Homo sapiens: one gene and its partner. The protein of the gene in region 2 purifies or fractionates together with the protein of the main gene of each other region. This does not show direct contact. Each region holds a gene or a part of one and is shown on either strand. Other genes may lie near its edges.

What was found. The genes of interacting proteins can lie anywhere in the genome.
Region 1: the proteins of CD38 (region 2) and ZAP70 fractionate together in Homo sapiens (co-fractionation; one study listed by BioGRID). This does not show direct contact.

What each region holds. Positions count from the first base shown.
Region 1 is NC_000002.12:97,725,910-97,731,360, reverse strand, and holds part of ZAP70 (tyrosine-protein kinase ZAP-70), read right to left. Parts: intron 1-5,451. UniProt on the Homo sapiens protein: Tyrosine kinase that plays an essential role in regulation of the adaptive immune response. Regulates motility, adhesion and cytokine expression of mature T-cells, as well as thymocyte development.
Region 2 is NC_000004.12:15,822,277-15,828,131, reverse strand, and holds part of CD38 (ADP-ribosyl cyclase/cyclic ADP-ribose hydrolase 1), read right to left. Parts: intron 3,252-5,855; coding exon 3,116-3,251; intron 1-3,115. UniProt on the Homo sapiens protein: Synthesizes cyclic ADP-ribose (cADPR), a second messenger for glucose-induced insulin secretion.

The DNA of each region.
Region 1 (5,451 bases), on a different chromosome or scaffold from region 2:
AGTCAACATCTCCCACAAAACATTTCTATTTTGAGTCACTGGCACAAGCTCCTGTTAAGTGCAGCTTTCCAGTGAGGAGGGAGGGCTATTGGCCCTGGGGGTCTCAGAGCTGTGGAAGTCAGAGGCAGGTGGCAGGCTGGCCTGGAGGTGATGGTCTCCAGGGACTGTGAGAAGTGAAAACACCTCCTAAGGGTCACAACCTGAAGTTTTAAACTGACAACAGAGACTCCATGCCAAGCCACTCACCAGCAAACAGCAAACCTCCCATCTCCCCTCCTCTGTCTCTTTTTTTTTTTTTTTTTTTTTGAGACCGAGTCTCGCTCCACAGCCCGGGCTGGAGTGCAGTGGCGTGATCTCGGCTCACTGCAAGCTCTGCCTCCTGGGTCCATGCCATTCTCCTGCCTCAGCCTCCCAAGTAGCTGGGACTGCAGGTGCACACCACCACGCCCAGCTAATTTTTTGTATTTTTAGTAGAGATGGGGTTTCACTGTGTTAGATAGGATGGTCTCAATCTTCTGACCTCGTGATCCACCTGCCTCGGCCTCCCAAAGTGCTGGGATTACAGGCGTGAGCCACCAAGTCTGTCTGTCTCTTTCATTCTTTCTTCTAGAACTAATAATTTCCTCCTTATTTGTTTATTTAAACTTCCATGTGGAATACTGGGGGAAAACAGCCACAATATTAGGGAGCTCTTCCCATCAATAGGTGGGGCCTCCTCCTCTGTCTTCTGAATCAGGGCTTGACCATGTGCCTTGCTAACAGGACATTAGCAAACATGACACAAGCAGAGGCTTGAAAAATGGTTGAACATTGAGGTTGGCCTGCCCTCTCTTGCTTTTCCTGGCAGCTCTCCAAATACCATGGGAATGAGTCCAAGCTAGCCTGCTAGAGAAGGCCCATGGAGGAGAACCAAGGCACCCTACATGAGTGGCCAATAGCCATTCATGTGAGTGAGGCCATCCCAGAGACCATCCAGCTCCAGCCAATCTTCCAGCTGGCTGTGGCCACATGAGTAAGCTCAAAAACCCAGCAGAAGAGGCACCCAGCTGAACTCAGCCCAAATTACCAAGCAACCAGCCAAATTGCCAAGCAAAACAAGAGTGAATAAATGATCGGTGTTTGTTTGTTTGTTTGGGACAGAGTTTTGCTCTTGTTGCCCAGGCTGGAGTACAATGGTGCAACCTTGGCTCACTGCAACCTCCACCTCCTGGGTTCAAGTGATTCTCTTGCCTCAGCCTCCCAAGTAGCTGGGATTACAGGCACCCACCATCATGCCCAGCTAATTTTTGTATTTTTAGTAGAGACAGGGTTTCACCATGTTGGCCAGGCTGGTCTCAAACTCCCGACATTAGACGATCCGCCTGCCTCAGCTTCCCAAAGTGCTGGGATTACAGGTGTGAGCCATCACACTTGGCTGTAAATGACCATTGTTTTAAGCCACTACATTTCAGGGTATGAATACAGCACATTGTTACACAGCAAAAGCTAACCAATACACTCTTTGGAAAGAGATGTGTGAGTTCATAAAGAGCAGCTGCAAATTCCCAGATAATAACCACAAAAGCTAAGACATTGGTGTTATCACCACATATATTTCAGTACCATAAGTTCTACTTGATTTACAAAAAAAAAAAAAAATGCTAGGTAGTGGCAGTTCTTTGTTCTTGCAGTTGGAACTTGCACTTAAGCCAGAAGTACAGGCTAAAAAATCAACTTGTATCTCTGCTCTTAAAATAATACATAGAACCTATAAGAGCTACATCTGTCTCTGGTTCACGATTGTAAACAAAACAAAACAAAAGGGCTACAATTTATTTATTAAGATATTGGTTCTAAATTCCTCACATATTTGTCCTATAATCACAGCACTCCCCACAAAGTAGGCACTATTGTTATCTCCATTTTGCAGATGAGGAAACTGAGGCACAAGATTATGTATCTTGCCTAAATTGCAGAGTTGGTAAGAGATAGGAGGGGGAGCCAGGATTCAAATGCATTTCTGACTCTACAGTTAATTGCTACCTAGGACTAACACCCAGCTCTGTCACAGATTATCTGTGAAACCCTGAATAAACTGCTTATCCTCGCTGTGCCTCGGTTTCCTTATGTATAAAATGAGGTAACTGGTCTAAATCATAACTTCTTGACCTGAAAAGGGTTCTAAGGACGAGGTTCAGGACCAACCATGATCTCATATAACTGTCTGCAAAGTCTTTGAGGTGAATATGCTTTGGGGGATTGTGAAAGGAGCAGTCAGTAGGATTCCAAAGAGGTCTGCAGTCCAGGAGAGGATAAGAAACACTTGACAGGCCAGGCGCGGTGGCTCACGCCTGTGATCCCAGCAATTTGGGAGGCCAAGGCGGGTGGATCACCTGAGGTCAGGAGTTCGAGACCAGCCTGGCCAACATGGCAAAACCCTGTCTCTACTGAAAATACAAAAATTAGCCAAGCGTGGTGGTGCACGCCTATAGTCCCAGCTACTCAGGGAGGCTGAGGCAGAAGAATCACTAAACCCGGGAGGCAGAGGTTGCAGTGAGCGAAGATTGCACCACTGTGCTCCAGCCTGGGTGACAGAGCAAGACTCTGTCTCAAAAAAAGAAACACTTGACAATGTACTCTCTTAAAGGCCCTTTCCAGGACAAGTTTCTTTTAAAGTCGAATCAGCCGGTTCCATAAAATTGCTGCCAATAACACAGAAACAAGCCAGCATTGGCAGTGCACAGCCCTGGGTACAATTAAATCTGTTCTTCGGCAACCATGAACTGTGATCAATGGTAGGCGTGGTCCTGGTCTTCACTCTAGGCCTGAGTAGCACGTGTCTTTCTCTCACACCCCAAGCCCTGAGAAAGCAGTTATAGACTACAGGAACCACAAGAAGAAGCTCTCACAGTTTCTGTCCAAAGCGTACCTTGCCTAATTTTCCAGGAGCCTGGCTCTTTGTAGCTGCTTCGTCTCTTGACGTTTACCCAGAATGAGTCATTGTCCTCATACCACTGTGCCAGCTGTGGACCTCACTGCCAGCCACACGCTCTATGCTGTGCCCAGATGCTGGGCATCTCTCCTTCCTAGCCACACCCTCCCACCGCCAACGCTTGTCCTATTTGCCTGGGAGACTGCACGCCAGTTTGATATGCAATGCACAGACAGCTGCTTAAAGCTGTTGGCCCTGGCTCTCCTGAGACTCCTCTAATCTCAGCAGACTGGTTGACTCTAAGCCTGTCATGAGCTCTGCTGTGTTACACAAAAACTGTTTGAACTTTTCCTTTGGGCAGTGAAACCTCTGCCACACAACATTGTGTGTGGAAGCCTAAGATAGCAAACAGATCAAAGCTGAGCGGCTGTCGTCATTCAAGCTGGAACAGGGGCCCAAATCCCACCTGCTCAACCCTTCTCTCACTCTCCCACCCCCTAGAATCCTCTGCCACTCTCAGGAGGCTTTAGGGAATCTGGGGGAAATTTTTAAGCCATTGGAGTGGCAGAATCATGACCTGTATGTGTGTGTGTGAGTGCAAGATGAGGAAGAGAGATGGGGGTGGGGAGGGAAAGAGAGAAGAAGAAAGGAAAACTGAGACAGAAGAGAGGCAGAGATGGTGGGGATGAAAAGCTACATTGGGGATGTAGGGGGAAAACAGAGAAGAAACTCAGATTATAAAATCAAAGAAGACAGATGAATTTACATTTTATGAAAGAGAAAGCAGAGACGGAAGGAAAGAATCAGCTACATCAATAGGAAGGGTTTAGAGCCTTCTTCGCGTGTCCAGCCTGGGGAGAGCCCCTGGACTCTCAGGCACCTGGGGTAGCATGTAATGGACGAGGGGGATATGAGCATGTGAGAACGTGGGAGCAAACATTACTAACATCTTGGCGAGGGTCACACCTGGGGTGGGGTGATGCAACATCTGGAGGAAGGTGGGTAATACCTGGACCAGCCATCACCATGTACTGCAAGATGGAGCCCTCCAGATGCAGCAGGGCAGGCCCTGCCCTCAGGCTGACAGTCCAAAAGGAAAGAGAGACAGCCCCCAACACCCATGTTCACAATGCCCATACCTTCACGACAACTTGCTTCATCCAATCCTACGACCAACCGTTTGCAAAAATGGCTCCCTGCATTCCTCTCCCTTAAGGAATCCCTTCCCTACAGTGACTTTGGTTTTGGTCGTATGACTTGCTTTGTCCATTAGGACATCAGTGACATTACACAAACAAAGGCTTGAACTTGCCCTGTCCTCTCTGACTGATCTTGGGAACCCTGCACCACCACCACACAAACAAGCTTCAGCTAGCTTGCTGGATGATGGCTGCACTGGGCCAGCTCATCCCCATCACCCAGGTGACACTGAGCCAATGGCCAGTCATGTGAGTGTGGCCATCCCAGCCTATTCAGGCCCAGCCTAGATGACCCAAACCAGAACTGCTTAGTTAGCTCACAGAATCATGAAGAGCAATAAACTGTCATTTTGAGCCAATAAATCTTAGGGCTGCTTGTTATGTAGCAAAAGCTAACTGATACAAATGCAAAGGTTTCCTCTTAGAGAAAACAGCCCTGTCCTGTTCAGAAGTTGTGCCGGCAACTGAGTATTACGTGCAACATGTATCTAAGAGCTCCCTCAGAAGCCTTGGAAACTCCACTCCAATTTACAGCCTAAATCTGAATCTGTATGGTAGGGTGAAAAGAGTTATTTTATCAGCCCACAACAGAATCTTGGAGAGGGAGCTGCATCTTGCAAGAGGCCTGCAGGCAATCTACAGAAACTTCACATGGGTGAGGAAAATCAAGGGATGTGGTCATTTCCTCCAAGTGGGTTGACCTCAGGAGAGGAAACAGCCCTGGGGGAGGCAGATGACCCAAGGGATCTGCTGGGCAGGGGCTCAGGCCAAGAAGCACTCACGAGAAGGAAGGCCCAAGAATTGTCCCCACAGATTTCTTGGGGGAAAACACTGGGCTTCCTGAGGTCATGGGAAAGAGGCAGCACCAATTTATCTGTGTCTTGAGGCCTGAGTGACCTCAGCTGCACCTGGATACCATCTGTTACAGAAAAGATCCCGTGTCCAAACCAGAGAGCAACAGCCCCAGCAGGGCTGTCAAACACTCAGCAGAGTTTTAAAAAGAGATTTTCAGAGATTTTTTTCACATTAACAAACTCACAAATAGCTACATGGCCTCAGCTGTGGCTCAGACACGCACGTTCACCCACATATAAAAGCTAACATTTACCGCATTTTTCCTATGTCAGTTACCATACTCTCGATTCACACGTATTAATTCATGTAATCCTCATAGAGGATCCTGAGGGGAGGTACTGCTGTCAACCACAGGACAGTTAGAGGGGGCTGCTTCAACACTCTCCCGGGGATCCCACCTCACTTGGGGGAAAAGCTAAAGTCCCCGCCCTGCCCTCACCTCCTCCCATTCTCCCCCTCACTTACTCAGCTCCAGGCACATGGCCT
Region 2 (5,855 bases):
AAGGTAGGAGGACCACCTGAGCCTGGTAGGTCAAGGTTGCAGTGAATTGTGATTGCACCACTGCACCTCAGCCTGGGTGACAGAGTGAGACCCTGTCTCAAAAACTAAAAAAAGTATTTGAGGCGGTGGATATGTTAATTAGTTTGATTTAATTATCCCACATTGTATTCATAAATTCATTTTTCACCCCACAAATACATACAATTATAAATTGTCAACTTAGAATAAAAAGTAAATAAATACATATACATCAGGAACTTGAAAGATAATCTATAAAATAAGAAGAAATTAAAAATTGAGGCCAAAGTATTAGAATGTAGATAAATAAAACTACATATACATAATTCAATTTAAAAGAAGGCAAAAATAAGGAACTCTGAACTGTAAATAAATCAGTTCTTAAAAATAAATTATTTCATTTTCTCTACTTTATTTCAAGAAAAATTGAACAAATTAAAAAATAAAACAAAAGGAGAGAAGTCTACTGTAAATACATTTAAAAGCTAAATGTTAAATGAATGACCAATAAAACAGTCATTGTTAAAAGGGAAATTTAAAAAGGAAAACATGGAACATGGGAAAAACTGTAAAATCTAAAAAAATTAATGGAAAAACATATTTATATTACCATATTCTAGGTGGGAAGACTCAGATCTAAATATGGAAAATATTTTAAACATTGTGAAAGTAAAAATAGTAGGTGAAAATACAGAAGAATGCTTCTCTAAGAAGATCTTTTTAAGGAAGATATGAAACACAGAAGCTATAAGGAAGAGAACAGACAGGTTTTCTGCATTTCTGGGTGGCAAAAGACAGACCATAAACACCGTGTAAAGTCCAAAATAAGAAAAATATATTCGCCAACTTGAGCCAGAAAGTGGGCAGAAAAACATGGCAGTTAAGAGCAAAGTTTCTCAAGTTAGTCTGAGAAACTTTGCTTCTTGCTTTGCCACTTACTGGCTGGCAAATTACTTAACTCCATGCCTCAGACTTCCTATCTCTAAAATGGGATCACCATATGACCTCATGGGGCTGTGGAGGATTAAATGAGTGACTACTTACGTAGCACATGGAACACTGGCACTTTGTAAGTACTTAATACATCGTAGCTCTTATTAATTTATAAAGAACTTCTACTAATTAGAAAATAATAGATACCGCATACAGATGGTCAAAATATATGAACTGCCAGCTTACAGAAGAAACAGAAAATCTACCATTTATGTATATATAGTAGCCTCACCATCAAAGAACTTCACACTAAATTGAGGTATTATTTTCTTCTGAAATGAGCCAAAAATTTTAAAGTAACAATACCTGGTGTTAGTGGGGATATAGGTAAATAAACTATCTCATATACATTCTTTTTTTTTCTTTTTTTAGTGTAAAATAGAGATGGGGTCTTACTATGTTGCCCAGGCCGTTCTTAAACTACTGGGCTCAAGTGATCCTCCCTCCTCCACCTCCCAAAGTGCTGGGATTGCAGGTATGAGCCACTGTGCCTGGCCTCATATATATACTCTTGATGAGGGTATAGTTACCATCTTTTAAATGACATGTTACCAGTTTCTATTACAATTTATCCTTTAACATTGAAGTTTCATTTATAAAAATTTATCGTTCAAGTATGCAGGTGTGTGTGTGTGTGTGTGTGTGTGTGTGTGTGTGTGTGCGCACAAAAGTGTTTCTTACAATAATGACATAATAGCAACCAAAACTAAAGCAACTTAATATCCATTAATAGGATTCTTAATGATAAAGCCTTTTAAAAGAGGATAGCTATCTTTATACCTACCAATTTTAAGTGAATAAAGCAAGTTGCACAACAGCGCGTGTACATTTTAAATATATATGTTTACATTAGCATAGGAAAAGTCTAGAAAGATCTATATCAAATTGCTGATAATAGTTACCCTTTGAGAAGTGATGCGGAGGTAGGAGGTGAAGGGAAAATTCAGAGTGACATTTGCTTTTTGCTTTTATGCATTTCTGTAATGTGCAAGTATTTTTTTTTCAAATAATCATGCTTTATTTTTGTAATTGAAAGTAATGCAAACCTGGGACAAAGAAGCTATAATAAGATAAGCTTTTAAAAACAAACAATGAAAAACAGTAAAAATAAGAATAAAACTATATAAAGTAAAAATATCCACCATATAAACAAAAAGAAAAAAAAAAGAAGTGAAAACTGCAGTAGGGTTTTGGTTGTAGGAAATCCCTTCCCCTGGTGAGGTGTTGAGTCTTTCTGGGCAGGATAAGGCTACATCTGAAAAATGATGGCAAAGCCAGTGCCTGAGATGGAAGAGTCCAGTCCATGGCTACTGTGATGATTCTGAAGAGCAAGAACCTTGGTCTAGGTCCCACTGAGACCTCATCCTGTTCTAGACTTCTTTGGACCTGAATGATGACCTTACAGAGAGCAAAATACCAAGAATTCGGAAGCAGGCTATGTGAGCACTCAAAAGAAGGGAATTAGGGAGCATGGGCAATCCCCAACTCTGAAGTCAATTTTTCAAGAAAACAGGGAATGCTACTTTATATCAGCCTGAGTTGCCATTAAGGGTAGTGCTATAGTTTGGATATTTAACTCTCCAAACCTTATGTTGAAATTCGACCCCCAGTGTTGGAGCTCGGGACTAGTAGGAGGTGTTTGGGTCATAGGGATGATCCTGCACGAATGGCATGGTGCTGTCCTTATAGTAATGAGTTCTTACTCTACTAGTTCCCAGGACAGCTGGTCATTACAAACAGCCTGGCACCTCCCCTGACCTCTCCTTGCTTTCCTCCCTCACCATGTGATCTCTGTAAATGCCAGCTCCCCTTCCCCTTCTCCATGAGTGGAAACAGCCTCAGGCCTTCACCCGAAGTGGATGCTGGTACCCTACTTCTTGTACAGCCTGCGTAACTGTGAGTCAAATAAACCTCTTTTCTTTATAAATTACGCAGCCTCAGGTATTCCTTAATAGCAACACAAATGGACTAATATAAGTATAGATGGCATCAGGATGGGTGCCTGTGGCTCTGTCCTCCACACTAATCATTCAGGGCCTCCAGCAGAAGTCACTCTGTTCACCCTCCACATCCCTGGGCAATCCCACAGGGCCCAGAGCCTCACTGGAAGTGTTGAATTCACCACACCATGTGAGGTCATCAGCAAGGTAGCCTAGCAGCGTGTCCTCCAGGGTGAACATGTCCCGCTGGACCTGTGTGAACTGATGGGCCAGATCTTTTATTCTGCTCCAAAGAAGAATCTAAGGAAGAATAAATACAATCTATTACTGAGATCAATTTAGCATGTCAAAAAAAATTAATCCACAGTTTTGTAAATGAAAAAAAAAACAGAGCATATCAAAGTAAATCACCCATAGTAAGAGTAAGAATTGTTGTAAGCATCAATGATTTCTGTGTGCAGGAGAGTGGCGGAGAGAGAGTGTGTGTGTGTGTGTGTGTTCTAGGTCACAATGTAAATGAATCTTTTATTCTAGGTTGCAGTCAAAAAAGTCTGAAAGCCACTGATCAAAATCTTATAATCAACATAGGATCACATATGGAGGTGGCATCAGAGAGTTACGATATTCCTAAGGTTATCTCCAAAAAAACTTTGTCTACGTGCTATTTTCAGGAAGATGTGCTATTTGATTCTTAAAGAACTATATAACCCCTTCCAAATTCCCTAAATATTCCCTACCCCTACTAAAAAAAAAATACAATAGATTTTTAAATTTAAGGGTCCCTCTTAAAGGTACAGGGAGTCAAAGTTCAGAATTATATTCTGTTTTATGAATCTATTATTTTTATTTTTATTTTAAATAAAATGTATATCCTGGGCATGTATATCCAGGGTATACATGCAGGATGTGCAGGTTTGTTACATAGGTAAATATGTGCCATGGGTTTGCTGCACCTATTAACCCATCACCTAGGTATTAAGCCAAGTATGCATTAGCTATTTGTCCTAATGTTCTCACTCCCCTCACCCCAACCCCAACAAGCTACAGTGTGTGTTTTTCCCCTCCTGGTGTCCATGTGTTCTCACTGTTCAGCTCCCACTTATAAGTGAGAACATGCAGCATTTGCATGTTCCTGTGTTAGTTTGCTGAAGATGTGGCTTCTGGCTCCATCTATGTCCCTACAAAGGACATGATCTTGTTCCTTTTTATGGCTGCATAATATTTCATGGTGTATACGTACCACATTTTCTTTATCCAGCCTATCACTGATGGGCATTTGAGTTGATTCCATGTCTTTGCTATTGTGAATGGCACTGCAATGAACATATGCATGCACATATCTTTATAATAGAATGATTTCTATTATACCCAGTAATGGGATTGCTGGGTCAAACGGTATTTCTAGTTCTAGATCTTTGAGGAATTGCCACACTATCTTCCACAATGGTTGAACTAATTTACATTCCCACCAACAGTGTAAAAGCATTTCTATCTCTCCACAATCTCACCAGCATCTGCTGTTTCTTGACTTTTTAATAATGCCATTCTGACTGGCATGAGATTGTGGTTTTGATTTGCATTTCTCTAATGACCAGTGATGTTGAGCTTTTTTTCATATGTTTGTTGGCCACATGGATGTCTTCTTTTGAGAAGTGTCTGTTCATGTTCTTTGCCCACTTTTTGATGGGGCTGTTTATTTTTTTCTTGTAAATTTGTTTAAGTTCTTTGTAAATTCTGGATATTAGACCTTTGTCAGAGGGATAGATTGCAAAAATCTTCTCCCATTCTGCAGGTTTTCTGTTCACTCTGATGATAGTTTCTTCTGCTGTGCAGAAGCACTTTAGTTTAATTAGATCCCATTTGTCAATTTTTGCTTTTGTTACAATTGCATTTGGCAATTTCATGAAATCTTTGCCTGTGCCTGTGTCCCAAATGATATTGCCTAGATTTTCTTCTAAGGTTTTTATAGTTTTGGGTTATACATTTAAGTCTCTAATTCATCTTAATTTTTGTATGAGTTGCAAGGAAGGGGTCCAGTTTCAATTGTCTGCATATGGCTAGGTAGTTCTCAAGCACCAGTTATTAAATGTGGATTCCTTTCCCCATTGCTTGTTTTTGTCAGGTTTGCCAAAGATTAGATGGCTGCAGATGTGTAGTTTTATTTCTGAGATCTCTACTCTGTTCTATTGGTCTATGTGTTTATTTTTGTACAAGTACCATGCTATTTTGGCATCTGTAGCCTTGTAGTGCAGTTTGGAGTTGGGTAGCACGATGCCTCCAGCTTTGTTCTTTTTGCTTAGGATCATCTTGGCTATATGAGCTTTTTTGGTTCCATATGAATTTTAAAATAGTTTCTTCTAATTCTATGAAGAATGTCAATAGTAGTTTAATGGGAATAGCACTGAATCTATAAATTACCTTGGGCAGTATGGCCATTTTCACGATATTGATTCTTCCTATCCATGAGGAAGGAATGTTTTTCTATTTGTTTGTGTCCTTTCTGATTTCCTTGAGCAGTGGATTATAGGTATCCATGAAGAGGTCCTTCACTTCCCTTGTTTGCTGTATTCCTAGGTATTTTATTCCCTTTGTGAATGGGAGTTCATTCATGATTTGGCTCTCTGCTTGCGTGTTGTTGGTGTACAGGAATGCTTGTGATTTTTGCACATTGATTTTGTATCCTGAGACTTTGCTGAAGTTGCTTATCAGCTTAAGAAGCTTTGGGGCTGAGATGATCCGGTTTTCTAGTTATAGGATCATGTCATCTGCAAACAAAGACAATTTTATTTCCTTTTTTCCATTTGAAAAGACTTTATTTCTTTCTCTTGCCTGATTGTCCCGGTCAGAACATCCAATACTATGTTGAATAGGAGTGGTGAGAGAGGACATCCTTGTCTTGTGCCG